Regions from separate parts of the Homo sapiens genome. Here region 1 is linked to region 2. The links come from fine-mapping of genetic effects on gene expression. Tissue or cell type: whole blood. Region 2 holds a variant in brackets; the other region holds the start of a gene. All regions are shown on one strand. Distances are between the middles of the regions.

Evidence for each region. PIP is the estimated chance that this variant, and not a neighbour inherited with it, causes the effect.
Region 1: GIMAP1 starts here. The variant in region 2 is fine-mapped to the expression of GIMAP1 in whole blood (TOPMed, PIP above 0.99).

The regions. Positions count from the first base shown.
Region 1 is chr7:150,712,624-150,720,731 of GRCh38, forward strand. It overlaps GIMAP1 (GTPase, IMAP family member 1), which reads left to right and starts at 3,990. Exons shown (of 3, transcript NM_130759.4): 1 at 3,990-4,067; 2 at 6,419-6,467; 3 at 7,425-8,108. The coding sequence starts at 6,425. It overlaps GIMAP1-GIMAP5 (GIMAP1-GIMAP5 readthrough), which reads left to right and starts at 3,990. Exons shown (of 5, transcript NM_001303630.2): 1 at 3,990-4,067; 2 at 6,419-6,467. The coding sequence starts at 6,450.
Region 2 is chr7:150,582,301-150,590,408 of GRCh38, forward strand. No RefSeq gene overlaps it. Among named protein-coding and RNA genes, the nearest start is that of GIMAP4, 19 kb to the left of the region's middle. RefSeq lists an enhancer at 4,226-4,405. The variant C/T (reference allele first, on the strand shown) is at 4,530.

The sequences.
Region 1 (8,108 bases), 130 kb after region 2:
TAACAGACAAACAGAGAGCCAAATCATGAGTGAATTCCCATTCACAATTGCTACAAAGTATATTAAATACCTAGGAATACAGCTTACAAGGGATGTGAACAACCTCTTCAAGGAGAACTATAAACCACTGCTCAAGGAAATAAGAGAGGACATAAACAAATGGAAAAACATTCCATGCTCATGGATAGGAAGAATCAACATTGTGAAAATGGCCATACTGCCCAAAGTAATTCATAGATTCAATGCTATTCCCATCAAGCTACCATTGACTTTCTTCACAGAACAAGAAAAAACTACTTTAAATTTCATATAGAACCAAAGAAGAGACTGTATAGCCAAGACAATCCTAAGCAAAAAGATCAAGATCAAAGCTGGTGGCATCACACTACCTGACTTCAAACTATACTACAAGGCTACAGTAACCAAAACAGCATGGTACTGGTACCAAAACAGATATATAGACCAATGGAACAAAACAGAGGCCTCAGAAATAACACTACACATATACAACCATCTGATCTCCAACAAATCTGACCAAAACAAGCAATGGGGAAAGGATTCCCTATTTAACAAGTGGCGCTGGGAAAACTGGCTAGCCATATGCAGAAAACTGAAACTGGACCCCTTCCTCACACCTTACGCCTTATACAAAAAATAACTCAAGATGTATTAAAGACTTAAATGTCAAACCTAAAGCCATAAAAACCGTAGAAGAAAACCTAGGCAATACCCTTCAAGACATAGGCATGGTAAAGACTTCATGACTAAAACACCAAAAGCAATTGCAAGAAAAGCCAAAACTGACAAATGGGATCTAATTAAACTAAAGAGCTTCTGCACAGCAAAAGAAACTATTATCAGAGTGAACAGACAACCTACAGAATGGGAGAAAATTTTTGCAATCTATCCATGTGACAAAGTCTAATATCCAGAATCTACAAAGAACTTAAACAAATTTACAAGAAAAAAAACAAACAACCCTATCAAAAATTGGGTGAAGGATATGAACAGACACTTCTCAAAAGAAGACATTTATGTGACAAACATATAAAAAAAACCTCATCATCACTGGTCATTAGAGAAATGCAAATCAAAACCACAATGAGATACCGTCTCACACCAGTTAGAGTGGCGATCATTAAAAAGTCAGGAAACAGATGCTGGAGAGGATGTGGAGAAATAGGAATGCTTTTACACTGTTGGTGGGAGTGTAAAGTAGTTCAACCATTGTGGAAAACAGTGTGGCAATTCCTCAAGGATCTAAAACCAGAAATACCATTTGACCCAGCAATCCCATTACTGGGTATATACCCAAAGGATTATAAATTATTCTGCTATAAAGACACATGCATATATATGTTTATTACAGCACTGTTCACAATAGCAAAGACTTGGAACCAACCCAAATGCCCATCAGTGATAGACTGGATAAAGAAAGTGTGGCCCATATATACCATGGAATACTATGCAGCCATAAAAAGTATGAGTTCATGTCCTTTGTAGGGACATGGATGAAGCTGGAAACCATCATTCTCAGGAAACTAACACAGGAACAGAAAACCGAACACTGCATGTTCTCACTCATAAGTGGGAGTTGAACAATGAGAACACATGGACACAGGGAGGGGAACATCACACATGGGGGCCTGTCGGGGGTTGGGGAGGCAAGTGGAGGGAGAGCATTGGGACAAATACCTTAAAACCTAGATGACAGGTTGATGGGTGCAGCAGACCACCATGGCAAATGTATACCTATGTAACAAACCTGCATGTTCTGCACATGTATCCCAGAATGTAAAGTACATTAAATAAAAATTTTTAAGTATGCAGCTCCTTCCCATTCTCTCTTGCTCCTACTCCAGCCATGAGATGTGTGTGCTTCCCCTCTGGCTTCTGCCATGATTGTAAGTTTCCTGAGGCCTCCCCAGAAGCCAAGGAGATGCCAGCATCATGCTCCCTGTACAGGCTGTGGAACCGTGAGCCAATTAAATCTCTTTTCTTTATAAATTACCCAATCTCGGGTATTTCTTTAAAGCAGCGTGAGGACGGACTAATACATTTTCTTCACTGCATTTATAAGGATACGGAAGAAAACAATGAACATGCAAAGACTGGAAAGAGAGGAAGGAAGCATTAATACAGGGTACAAAAGGAAGCCGGAGTTCTAGATATAATTCTGAGACTCAAGTGTAGTCAGGGTCTGAGCTTCACCTGGGTTTCCACAACTGATAGTAAGTATCAATGAATAATAATAGGCAACAAAGCCCAGAGACAGTGAGACATAATCAAGAGCTAATAGAAATGTAGAGGAAAATAAAGACAGAAACGGTTACTTTTCAATAGGAAGAAGATCCCAGAAAGCACCAGTAGGAAAGTGGAAATGTGGGACGGGAAGGGATAGTAGCCAATGCAAGTTGCATTAATGAGCACATTACCACTGTATACGGTGATGAGGATGTTCCCACTGCAGACAACTGGGTCTCAGTCCTGCTGGGGACTCAGCAATTTGTATGCAGTACATCACAGAGTTGTCTCACGTGGTGGACAACTTGATAAGTTGTGGTGTTTATCCATAAGTCCTAACTGACATTGATTGAAATCTGCTCCTAGGATATCAGCTCTGACAACTTCAGGCTGCTGCATGCATTACCTACATATACTTTTGTAGTCAGATAAACCCTCTGACAGAGAGTTATGAGTGGCTGAAGTAAGACATCATACACATGCATGGAAACAATAAATGGCCCGGAGCTGTTGAAGAGGCTCTGAAAGCGTCTTTATGAAAGGTACACGTCAAGTATCAAAGACTTATTCAAAGCTGATCTATGTGGCTTGGGCTAGGATGAGGCTAGTGAGAAGCCCTAGGCACCTCACTCTTAAGAAAACACTCACTCCCAGGGTCACCCACCTACAAGATCTGCACTTGGGTGACCTGAGAGTGAGTGCCTCCTTAAGCTGTGTGCTCTAGATGCCCCACCTGCCTCACAATAGCCCCAGCCCTGCCGGTCTACTGGGAGAATGACAGGCTCCCTGTTTCAGCAATGATGAATGGAAACAGTGGACATGTCAGATATCCAGGAGACTCTGTGCCCCCAAAAAGATGGGAAACAGTAAAAGCTGGGTCTCTTCCCTACCAGAAAAAAAGTGGTCTGGCATGAAAGAGGTTAAAAAGCAGATCCTATCCAGTAGGGTAAGACTCGGGTTATTGTCTTCCCCATATACTCCAGAAAGCCAACTCCAGAAAGTTTAAATGAGTTAGGTGAGGTCCTATAGCTGGTTAATGACCTAACCAGATATGCAGCCTGCTCCTCTGTAGCCTTCTTACCACCCAGTGATTCGCTTTTTTGCTGACCTCATGATGCTCTTGAGAGAAGATAGAATAACTAGAACTGGTGATACCAACATAGACGACTAGACTAAAGCCTCCTAATAAGGCTAAATTGAAGATAGTGCGAAGGTGTTCATCCTCAACATACCAGTTCACCCTCAAGTCCTTCAATAGCTGGGAAAGCCCTCCTCTCTCAGAGAATGATAAGACTTTGCCTTCAGGTTTTTCTGGCAGACTGGATCTGGGGCTGGCACTGGCCACATGAATGTCTAATTAATGGACAGATGATGAGAACAGCTATTACGTTATTTGTTCCGGGGCAGGAGACTCTCTGGGCCTATTTTATATGGGGAAATGTCCCTATAGGGCAAAGGCAACTGAAGATTAGCTCAGTAATCAATTTTAGAAGTACAGTCAGGCCTCAGAGACTACAACATCCCTCCCTTCTTAGAGCATGGCAAGATATTTGACATCATGAGGCCCTGCTGGAGACACATAACCTCAGTCACAGCAGAAAGTAGAGTCGGTAGGAGAAGTATTGCCAACCCACAGCTCAATGGGAAATGTTTCTGTCTCTTTAAACCATAACCATGGGGCCCACCCTGAGCTTCCTGATTTCTGAAGTCTGAGTGATTTCCTCCGTGTGCCGAGAGGAAACAGCCTTCTGCACTCACAGCCGAAGGGAAAGCAGCAGGTTGGGGCTTCTTGTGGCCAACTTCAGAGCCTGTCACCAGGAAAGGTGAGCCTGAGCCTGGGAGTGGCGGGGGCTGGGGGTGCTCTGAGAACCAGAAAGAACATGATTCCTAGAGTGTTTACTGCCTGAACACTTGCATTCTACAAGGCATCATGCAGGCGAGCAAGATCTGGAACAATCAAGGACATACTTCCAGGTTTTTAAGTAGGCAAAGTTCAGAGGAAATTTTAGGATCATCTTCTCCAGCTCTGGAGCACACACGTTCTTGGTGGGGAGTGAAATCTGTCTCCTCCCACATTCCCTTAACAAAGTAAGAAAAGAGTGTGCTGGAACCACCTCCAGGAATAAAATACAGTTTGAAAGGCATTAAACATTCCTCAAGCTCCCTATTGAGCAAAGGCAAAAGATATTTCTATGGCCCCATAAGCCATCTAACCTCGGAGTGAGTTACGACGTGACAAGACTGGGTACATTTGAACTCTCCTCCTCACTGTCCACAGAAGGGGCCCCTGAGGAGACATCTGAGATTAATATCTTGGTCTTCAACCCCTTTCCCTGCATGGCCCCTTAAACATCTGCTCCCTTAATTCAAGCTTCTCCTGCTCCAGCCACGGGGACACCTCAAATTCCCATCTGTACAATAAAGGGGGTTGCAAAAATGACTGATGTCCAAGTTCTGAGCTGTGGACATCAGAAACATTTAATTCATGAATCAGAATCTCAGGATGGATCCAAGAGATGTACATTTTTAAAGAACATTCAAGTAATTCTGAGAAGCAGCACATTTGAGCGGTGAAGAACTCAATAAACTTTGCGGTCTCTTAAAGTGTTAGGAATACAGGATTCTATAAGTGTACATTCCTCAATGATTAAGGGCCATTTGTCACCTCAGAGTTCAGCTGGGTCTTACTTTCCTTTAAAAAAAAAAACTATTTAAAATCATTTCAACCCCTCTTCTAAACTATGGAAAATTCCAAAGGCCTATCCAGAATTCTGCAGCACTGGAAAAAGAAATTCTCATTTTCTTGGTTGACAAGGACATTTTGCTTCATCTAAATTCTTTTCTCTGAATCTTGCAACTGTTTCTTCATTTCTGCTTTGATGTCATTTATGATCATCTGTTCATTCCTACATGCAAAATAATTAATCACATAAGGCCCATGGAGTGAATTTTATTGAAGGCTTTGGGGAGGGCCAGTAGAGTTCCTGCAGAAACAGAAACAGCTCTAGATTTAATATGAGGCAAATCTGTTCTCCAAGTCCTTCAATCAAAGACAAGTTACTCAGCCAGCCTCTCTCTCTGCCCCTCCTTCATGTGTGGTGCCAATGGGAGAGAACACAGGTATCCAAGTGACCAGGGTGCAAGACACAACAAGTTTGACATGGATGGTGAGGCACAGACAGATGGTCGGGGAGGATCAATAGTCCTAGGAGGGGAAGCCGAGTGGGTTGGAAAGGCCCTGAAATCTGCTGATTGTGAAGTAGCTGACCGAGTGGGGTATTGTCTGGGAATGAGGCTGGAGACATAGATGCAGGGAGAAGTGAATTTGTGTTCAGGAGCTTGTGTGATTAGGCAAACTGGATCACAGAGGGTTTAGCTGTATTACACAATGTTAGATTTCAGCATAATCACATTTGGAGGGGAAGCAACTTCAGGAGTTGAAGGGAAGTGTTCAAGTCTCTCCAGCACAGATATCGTATTTAGACATCTCTAAACAAACCAAATTATTTGATTTTAAGAAAACAGAGTTAGGGGCCCTCCAGATCTACTTGGGAGATCTGTTCAATTTCCAAAAGAAAAATCCCAATTTTCTTCTTTCTTCCCAGGTCAGCCACTTGAAGGTGGGTGCCTAAGTCACTGGGCACATTTTCTGGTTCTGAGGGTTTACCTAATCTTCCCCCAGCTGCTGAATCCCCTGATATCTCTAGCTTATGTCAGTGATATAGAATCACCCAGGGAAAAGTAATACCTAAAGCCCATTGGCATTGAGTAAATGTTATAACCGACCCTCTGCTTTTTGCTTTTGGAGTTCCTGAAAAGACAAATCTAGCCTCACCCAATGTTCTCACAGCATCCTACCAACTCAAGGGCAGGGTGTTGGCCCTTCCAAGGCCATTCTCTCAAGTTCCGATATAATCCTTACTTAAAGAAGGATTAGCACAATGTATTATATTTGACGAAATTTACCTGTCTTCTCTCTAGCCACGTGCCCTTCTGCCAAGACATACACCTAGATTTTTAGATCCTTGCAAGCAAAAACCATGTCTTTTCACTGTGCTGTCACCAGCTCTTTGGACTTTGCCTGACACCCTGTAGGTGGTTATGCCTATTTGTGGTTATGCCTATTTGAGGAATAAATAAATGAATTAACAAATTGTGTTTGGGACTCTTCCAGGTAAGCATGGGAGGAAGGAAGATGGCGACAGATGAAGAAAATGTCTATGGTAAGACCATATCTCTACACCTCATACTTGCCCCCCTAGGCTTGAACTTAGGGTAATAAGGAGAATGGGGCTTCCTCAAGACTGAACAGAGATAAGTTCCAGAGGTGTCTCAACTCTGGGATGAAACAGCACCAGCCCTGAGATCTGCATTTTAGCTGGATCTCTGCTGTGAGAAGTTAAGTTCTGTGACTAGCCTGCTCCCTTGGTTCCACAGTATAAAATAAGGATAATAAACCTACTCCGATCACCGCAGAAGAAGTGCAGAGGGGATTAAATCATGCACTACAGTGAACATGATTTGTGAGGTAGAATGTTTAGAGAACAAGGATAGAGGGTTAAAACATATATTCTTTTTAGGCAGCCAGTTTAAGAGAGAGATAAGAGAGGAAGGAGAGAAAGAGGGAGAGAAAGAGAGAAGAAGGAAAGAGGGCTTATTTCACCCCCTCAACAGGCCTCTGAGAAACAGGCCCCTATTATCGCTCCCACTTTTGCCGAAGAGGCTTAATACTTAGATTATGCAGCTTCCCCAAGGTTACACAACCAGCACGTGGTGGGGCTGTGATTCAAACCAGGGTATCTGGGACTCCACACAGCTCTTCACTACCAGGCAGTATTGCCCCCACTGCCTGTCTCTGGGGATGGTCTCTGGGAGAATATTTCAGAGTCCATCGAAATTTTCAAATATGAAATAAATATGTCTGCATGTGTGTGGATGACCAGAAATGTCAGATGAACTATTGGGCTGGACTGATAAAGAAGCATTTCTATGATAATCAACTGTAGTTGGAGCATCTACTGGTGCAGGCAGACAACCCAAATACAAAAGGAAAAGGTGGAAATGAACGCCCAGGCGTTCAAATCTCTATTCTTAACCACTTATGCTAAAGGCAAGAAGATTCCAGTTCCCAAGGGGAAGTTGGTTAAACTTAAGTAAGATTATAACACTTGGTCTCACAGGTTTAGAAGAGAACGCTCAGTCCCGGCAGGAGTCCACGCGGAGGCTCATCCTTGTTGGGAGAACAGGGGCCGGGAAGAGCGCCACTGGGAACAGCATCCTGGGCCAGAGACGGTTCTTCTCCAGGCTGGGGGCCACGTCTGTGACCAGGGCCTGCACCACGGGCAGCCGCAGGTGGGACAAGTGCCACGTGGAAGTCGTGGACACTCCGGACATTTTCAGCTCCCAAGTGTCCAAGACAGATCCTGGCTGTGAGGAGAGAGGTCACTGCTACCTGCTCTCGGCCCCCGGACCCCACGCGCTGCTCCTGGTGACCCAGTTGGGTCGGTTCACCGCCCAGGACCAGCAGGCGGTGAGGCAGGTGAGGGACATGTTCGGGGAGGACGTCCTAAAATGGATGGTCATCGTCTTCACCAGGAAGGAGGACCTGGCCGGGGGCTCCCTGCACGATTACGTGAGCAACACAGAGAACCGGGCCTTGCGCGAGCTGGTGGCCGAGTGCGGGGGCCGGGTCTGTGCCTTTGATAACCGGGCCACCGGCCGGGAGCAGGAAGCCCAGGTGGAGCAGCTGCTGGGGATGGTCGAGGGCTTGGTGCTGGAGCACAAGGGCGCCCATTACTCCAACGAGGTGTATGAGCTGGCGCAGGTGCTGCGCTGGGCAGGCCCTGAGGAGCGGCTCCGGCGGG
Region 2 (8,108 bases):
GATCAGGAAAATTGAAGCATATGTAGGTATAGGTAGGATATATTTTCAAATCCAGGAAATTAGAGGCTGGCCCACCCCTTGGAGGGCTGGGAATGCAGAGGTCTTGGAAGCTTGCTGATGCACAGAGCTGGGTGGTTTTGAGGCGCTCATTTGCTGTGACATGCAGGTAGGTCTGCTCATTGTCTCTCTGCTGTTGCTGCCAGAGAATGGTCCTTCTTCCTTGTCCACCATCCAAATCTCATGTGAATGTCTCATCTTGATTTATTCTCACTTGGACCATACAGTGTAAGAGGTGATGAGAAATATCATTCTAGGCTCCTCCGTGATTCAGAAACAACAGATGATGTTGGAGGTCGAAAGACTGAGGGTCGTGATCAATTCCGTATACCACTGGGGCTATATGAGTAGGCAGCAAACTGTTTCTCATAAATGCAGAATTTTGGCAGACTGACAAACTGCATCTTCCACCCAGAAGGGATATTGAGGGCAGTTACACCCCAAGCACGATGTTTCTTGTGATTAGGTACATCTGAAGCTTGTTAGTAATCATATGAACCTGTGATCAATTAAGAAGCGGACCAGTAGTTACCTCCTGCTCTCTGGCCATTCTACCCAATAAATACGAAGTGCAGTAGAAGCTCAGGGGCTGCTTTTGCTCACTAGAAGGAGGAGTGCTATTCTTCTTCCCCAGTTCCCCTTCCTATAAAAGTTTCTTTTGTCTTAAGCTTTCATTTCTACGTTTGTCCCTTCATTCCGTCTTGTGATGATGGTTTCAAGTAGTAACAGTAGTAACTGTCATAGTGACAGTCTCAAGTAATAACCATGGCAGTCAGCCAAAAGTGGCACCTGAACAGGGACAAACAGGGACTATCAGAGACAAAAAGAGACCTGAAGGGACCTGAAGAGGCCTGCAGGGACAAATAGAGATAAGGAGGGATAAATGGAGATAAATAGACAAATAGGGACAAATAGAGATAGGTAGGGAAAGACAGGGACTTGCAAGAACTTGCAGGAACTAACAGGGGCTATAGGGACTGAGAGGGACAGATAGGGATAGATAAAGACTAGCAAAACTTGCTGGGACAGATAGGGAGAGTTGGGTCCTAAAGGGACTTGAATGAGGAAGGTCTGCTGGAACAGAAAAAACCAAAGCCCAGAAAAAATTAAAACCAACCAGACGAATGAGAAACCCTGTTACAAGTCTGCCTGCAGCAACATAAGGTCAGGGCCCTAGAGGTACAAAGAATGGGAAGTTTTTGAATCAGGGTAACATGGGGAAGAATTTGGCTATTTCTTCGCTCTTTTGTTTGGAGTTCGGTACGTACTATCTTTTTGTTATTTCAGGGTTTTAGGGAATTTTTTGCCCCACCTACAGCACCTATCAAAAGTAGTGAACAGGAGAGGGAGAATGGAAATTGGCTTGTACCATCTTCCTTTGTGGCTACAGAAAGGCTAACTTTAGCTTTGGCTTTCTGGGATTGTAAACCTGCATTGGCACCTGTGAGATGTGCAGAGAACTTGGGAGGTTTTCTCGGAGCTTGTCGGGATGTGGGAACTGAGCTTCATTGCTCTGCAGTATTGACTCAGACAATGGCTAATTTGGTAGCTGACAGATCTAAAAGAAGCCAAGGGTCAAGCCCTAATGTGGGAAAGTGTTATAAGTGTAGAAAAATTGGACATTTCAAAAAAGAACACTGCCAGACCTCTGGGCAAAAGGGATCTTGTAACACAGTTCCCCTCTTAACAGAAAAAATGCCAGGACTTGGCCCTCATTGCAATAAAGGGAATCATTGAGTTAATCAATGCCACTCAAAGTTTCATCAAAATGGCAGCCCCCTCTTGGGAAGTGAGAAGGGGGCCTGGACCCTGGCACCTCAAAAAATGAGGGCATTCCCTGTCCAGAGAACAGCTTCATTTCAGGGATTGGTTTCCAGAGGCATATTGATTCCCTCTCCCCAGGAACACCTGGAAGCGCAGGATTAGATGGCCCAGTTAGAGAGCAGGTTACGTTAATTGGAAGAAACAAACTCACTAAGATTCCCATTGGCATTTGTGGACCTTTGCCAACAGGATACATGGGATTAATTTTGGGCAAAAGCTGTCTTAACTTACAGGCCCAGGAGTTGGTAATTGGGATTGTGAAGGAGAAATTCAAGCAGTGGTAACGTCACAAGATCTTTGGGTTTTTGAACCAGGAGAATATATTGCTCAACTGTTGCTTATTCCCTATAAATTGTACCCCTCTCTACATAAGAAGAAGTGAGGAGGTCAGGGATTTGGAAGTGCAACTGGGAGAGAGACTTACCTATCACAACCCGTGGCATCTAATAGACCCACCTATACAGTGCAAATCAAAGGAAAGAAGTTTTATGGGCTTATGGATATAGGAGCTGATGTGTCAGTGTGTCAGTAATATCTAAAAACAATTGGCCCCTATCTCGGTCCCTAAAACTATCTTCTACATCCCTAGTGGGAGTAGGAACAGCTCAAAGTGTTCAACAGAGTGCTGAGATTCTGTCATGTCTCAGACTGGATGGGCGGTTCGTGTTTTGTGTCTCAAGGTTTAAAGGAGTCTTTTGCCCTGCACGTTGAACCCACCGGGGGTGGAGGGCAGGAGAGGGAGGATGAGAATTGGCCTGTACTGCCCTTTTCAGTAGTAGAGACACCTGTACTATCTTCTGAAGCAGAAACAGAGACCCTAATAGTTAGGCAGGAATATCATCACCCCTATTCAGCCTGAAGAAGTTACAGAAGACAGATCTTCATCCCTCTGCAACCCTTAGGATTAAGGGTCCTCTTGTAAAGGGGGAGATATGTCAGAGGCATTCAAACCAGGGCCGTTTCACTTGTTTCTGGGACTTCAACAAGCTGTTCACTCTCATGCTGCTCCTTTTCATGTTTCTAATGTTCACCCTCACACACTGCTCCCTGGGCTGCTCTCTTTGGGTGGTGATGGAATGAGAGACTGGAGAAGGATAAGCCTCGATTTGCTCTCTGTGTGCCTTCTGTTAATCAGAAAGAGCCAGCCTCTCATTATCAATGGAAAGTTTTACCCTGCGGTAATTAACCAAAGAGACAGAAGCTGAGTTACAGGTTGCAGAGCAGACGCTTCAGCAACGGCATGCCTCCCGGCTACAGCCACAAAAACTTTTTGCTTCTGCTTTGCTAGATTTACTAACGTGGGGGCGAGGGTATGCTTGTGTTTTCACAGCAAATGAACAAACCATGTGGGTGCCCTCAAGGTGTGTACAACCATGGAACAGGAGATTGGAGGGAACCATGGATCCCAGCCACAGGCCTGGTTCCCCCAGTGTGAGCCATGAGCCAGTTGAATCTGAATGTGAAGACGAACGAACCACCAACCAGCAATTGAAGGCTGCACATTTTGCAATTGCCTTATTCAATTAATTCAAAAACAAAAAGGGAGAAATGTTGGAGGACAAAAGATTGAGGGTCGTGGTCAATTCAGCATACCACTGGAGGCTATATGAGTAGGCAGCAAACTGTTTCTCAAATGCAGAATGTTGGCAGACCGACAAACTGTGTCTTCCACCCAGAAGGGATACTGAGGGCAGTGACGGCCAAGTGCAATGTTTGTTGTGATTAGGTACATCTGAAGCCTGTTAGTAATAATGTGAACCTGTGTTCAATTAAGCAGCTGACCAATCATTACCTTCTGCTCCCTGGTCATTCTACCCAATAAATACGAAGCGTGGTAGAAGCTCAGGGGCGGCCTTTGCTCACTAGAAGCAGGGAGCCCTTTTCTTCTTCCCCAGTTCCCTTTCCTTTAAAATGGTTTCTTTTGTCTTAAGTTTTCATTTCTATGTTCGTCCCTTCATTCAGTCTTGTAATGACGGTCTCAAGTAGTAACAGTAGTAACTGTCATAGTGACAGTCTCAAGTAATAACCATGGCAGTCAGCCACAAGATGATTTGGCACTGCTGAAGCATTCATAGAGCAGCATTCATCATCTATCTGACCTTTTTGTGGGAAATGTTTCCTAGCCCATTCAAGACACTTATGCTCATTGATGCTGGGTATACCCAGGACAAAGTAGTTTTGATCTTGTATTTTGACTACTTGCTATCTGTCTCCTACAGTTATGGCTGATGAAGAACACTTCCTTATTCACCATTGGATTCCAATATCCTGGAGTGTGTGAAGCACTCGTTAAATATTTTTCACCCATTTGGCAGTGGTACATCCCCCTTGCCCTTGGAGAATGGTAAAACTTGGCTCAAGCTGCATTTCCACAGCACACAGAATCCAAACTCCCTCCTGCAGGGAGCTTTCTGCACTCACTTCCTCATCCTTCCCCTACTTCCTCCTGCGTGTGCCACTGTCCTCTGTCTTACCCCATTTCATGCACTTGCAGTTCATTCACTTGAAGTTCAGTTTTCTGCCTAGTTTCCACCATCATAATAGTGATCAGCATTATGTAAGCTTCAGCAGCTTTCCTAGAGATTTTGAGTTACAGGGGAAGGTACCAAAGACAGCACTGGGCATTTCTATACCAAGCTCACTCTCCT[C/T]CCTCTGGCTTGGAAAGAGAAACTGTTTATCCCTCTACACCCAGGAGGAAACAACTCTGGAGTTGCTTAATAAATTGTCATCTTCTCAGGAATGCAGATGACTGATCAATTCCAGGATGTTAGAGAGCCTGACACCCACTGGAGCACTTCCTACTATTGTTTTAACTTTCCAAAAACAAGAAACAGACTGTCCTTTCCCCTTTGCCCTGTGGTGACCAGACATGACCTTCATTTTTGCTTTCTCTTTCCACTCTACAGTCACCAATGAAGGTCTCCTTCTGGCAGCTCTGCCTGGGTCAGATTCTGTTGGTTTTCTCTCCTGGGGCTGTCACTCTGTGGTTGTCAGGTGGCCCAGGATGGGGAATAACTCCCTTCTGTTCCAGTAGGAGGATTAAGACACTTACTTTGAGCTCTGGTCCCAGCTCTGGTCTCTACTCCATCTTTATTAGAAAGTCATATCCTTCTGGTAAAAAGACGGTATTTTGCCTGATTTGATTGAGTTCTTTGTGTGTTCTATGTCCTTCGGAATCCTGCAGGGGAGAAGGGTCTTTGGCACCCTGTCATTTACTAGGAATGTTGGAAATAGGGGAAATGCCTTGAACATTAGGTGTTAGGAATGCCAATTCCCAGGTTCCACTCTACACCTACTTCCTCAGAAAGTTTGTATTTTAACAAGCTTAAATGCATGCTAATGCTAGAGGTTCTTTGAGAATGCAATATTTGCTTCATAGACATATAGAAAAATCAGCTGCCAACATTCAAAAACATTAATAGAATTTTTTCAGCCATGTTAGCCTGAGTACTTTCTTCAGAATGGATTGTCTGCATTTTATCATTTCTCCAATTTCCATGTCAAGGCCCAGGTTTCCAGGTTACTAGACACTAGCGTTTTATACAGAAGTCTAGGTAATAAGATATGGAAACCCACATCCTCTTCTAGGGGAAAAGAGCCAGAGGGGAATGCAGAAAAATAAAGCAGTCAGATGTGTATCCTGAGTTTTGTCTCTCCAGATGTTGGCTCAGGAAATAGATATATTAGATATCAGAGTTCTACCCATCCCTTGAACCTTGGTCTGGGGAGTACTTTCAGAGTAACAGTCTTTCTAATGTGGCTGTGGCCACGTGTAGTTCCTCATTTTGAGGATCTAAACACCTTTACTTTTTGTCTGGTTTTCATCACTCTATGTTGCTTTCCAATATTTTATTCTTTTTAAAAAAATTATACTCTAAGTTCTGGATACGTGTGCAGAACGTACAGGTTTGTTACATAGGTATACACGTGCCATGGTGGTTTGCTACACCCATCAACCCGTCATCTATATTAGGTATTTCTCCTAATGCTGTCCCTCCCTCAGCCCCCCACCCCACAACAGGCCCCGGTGTGTGATGTTCCTCTTCCTGTGTCTATGTGTTCTCATTGTTCAACTCTCACTTATGAGTGAGAACATGCAGTGTTTGGTTTTCTGTTCCTGTGTTAGTTTGCTGAGAATGATGGTTTCCAGCTTCATCCTTGTCCCTGCAAAGGACATGAGCTCATCTTTTTTAATGGCTGCATAGTATTCCATGGTATGTATGTGCCACATTTTCTTTATCCAGTCTACCATTGATGGGCATTTGGGTTGGTTCCAAGTCATTGCTATTGTGAATAGTGCTGCAATAAACATATGTGTGCATGTGTCTTTATAGTAGAATGATATATAACCCTTTGGGTTTATACCCAGTAATGGGATTGCTGGGTCAAATGGTATTTCTGGTTCTAGATCCTTGAGGAATTGCCACACTATCTTCCACAATGGTTGAACTAATTTACACTCCCACTCTTGGGTATACACCCAAGGGATTATATATCATTCTACTATAAAAATGAAAAAGCGTTACTATTTCTACACTTTTACACTGTTGGTGGGCGTATAAATTAGTTTGACCATTGTGGAAGACAGTGTGGCAATTCCTCAAGGATCTAGAACTAGAATTACCATTCGACCCAGCCATCCCATTACTGGGTATATATACCCAAAGGATTATAAATTATTCTACTATAAATGCACATGCACACATATGTTTATTGTGGCACTATTCACAATAGCAAAGACTTGGAACCAACCCAAATGTCCATCAGTGATAGACTGGATTAAGAAAATGTGGCCCCTATACACCATGGAATACTATGCAGCCATAAAAAAGGATGAGTTCATGTCCTTTGTAGGGACATGGATGAAGCTGGAAACCATCATTCTCAGCAAACTATCACCAGGACAGAAAACCAAACACCACATGTTCTCACTCATAGGTGGGAATTGAACAATGAGAACACATGGACACAGGGTGGGGAACATCACACACTGGGGCCTGTTGTGGGGTGGGGGGAAGGGGGAGGGATAGCATTAGGAGAAATACCTAATGTAAATGAGGAGTTGATGGGTGCAGCAAAACAACATGGCACATGTGTACCTATGTATCAAACCTGCATGTTGTGCACATGTACTCTAGATCTTAAAGTATACTAATAAAAAATACATATATTTTTAAAAAGTGTTCCTATTTCTCCACATCCTCTCCAGCATCTGTTGTTTGCTGACTTTTTAATGATGGCCATTCTAAGTATTATGAGATGGTATCTCATTGTGGATTTGATTTGCATTTTTCTAATGAGCAATGATGATGAGTTTTTTCATGTTTTTTGGCGCATAAATGTCTTCTTTTGATAAGTGTCTGTGGATGTTGTTTACCCACTTTTTGATGGGGTTGTTTGTTTTTTTCTTGTAAATTTGTTTATGTTCCTTGTAGATTTGGATATTAGCCGTTTGTCAGATGGATAGATTGCAAAAATTTTCTCCCATTTTGTAGGTTTCCTCTTCACTCTGATGATAGTTTCTTTTGCTGTATAGAAGCTCTTTAGTTTAATTAGACCCCATTTGTCAATTTTAGCTTTTGTTGCCATTGCTTTTGGTGTTTTAGTCATGAAGTCTTTGCCCATGCCTACGTCTTGAATGGTATTGCCTAGGTTTTCTTCTAGGGTTTTTATGGTTTTAGGTTTTATGTTTAAGTCTTTAATCCATCTTGAGTTAATTTTTATATAAGGTGTAAGGAAGGCATCCAGTTTCTGTTTTCTGCATATGGCTAGCCAGTTTTCCCAACACCATTTATTAAATAGGGAATCCTTTTCCCATTGCTTGTTTTTGTCAGGTTTGTCAAAGACCAGATGGTTGTAGTTGGATGGCATTATCTTTGAGGCCTCTGTTCTATTCCATTGGTCTATATATCGGTTTCAGTATCAGTATCATGCTGTTATATTTACTGTAGCCTTGTAGTATAGTTTGAAGTCAGGTAGCATGATGCTCCAGCTTTGTTCTTTTTGCTTAGGATTGTCTTGGCTATATGGGCTCTTTTTTGGTTCCATATGAAATTTAAAGTAGTTTTTTCTAATTCTGTGAATAAAGACAATGGTAGCTTAATGGAGATAGCATTGAATCTATAAATTACTTTAGGCAGTATGGCCATTTTCATGATATTGATTCTTTCTATCCATGAGTGTGGAAAGTTTTTCCATTTGTTTGTGTCCTCTCTTATTTCCTTGAG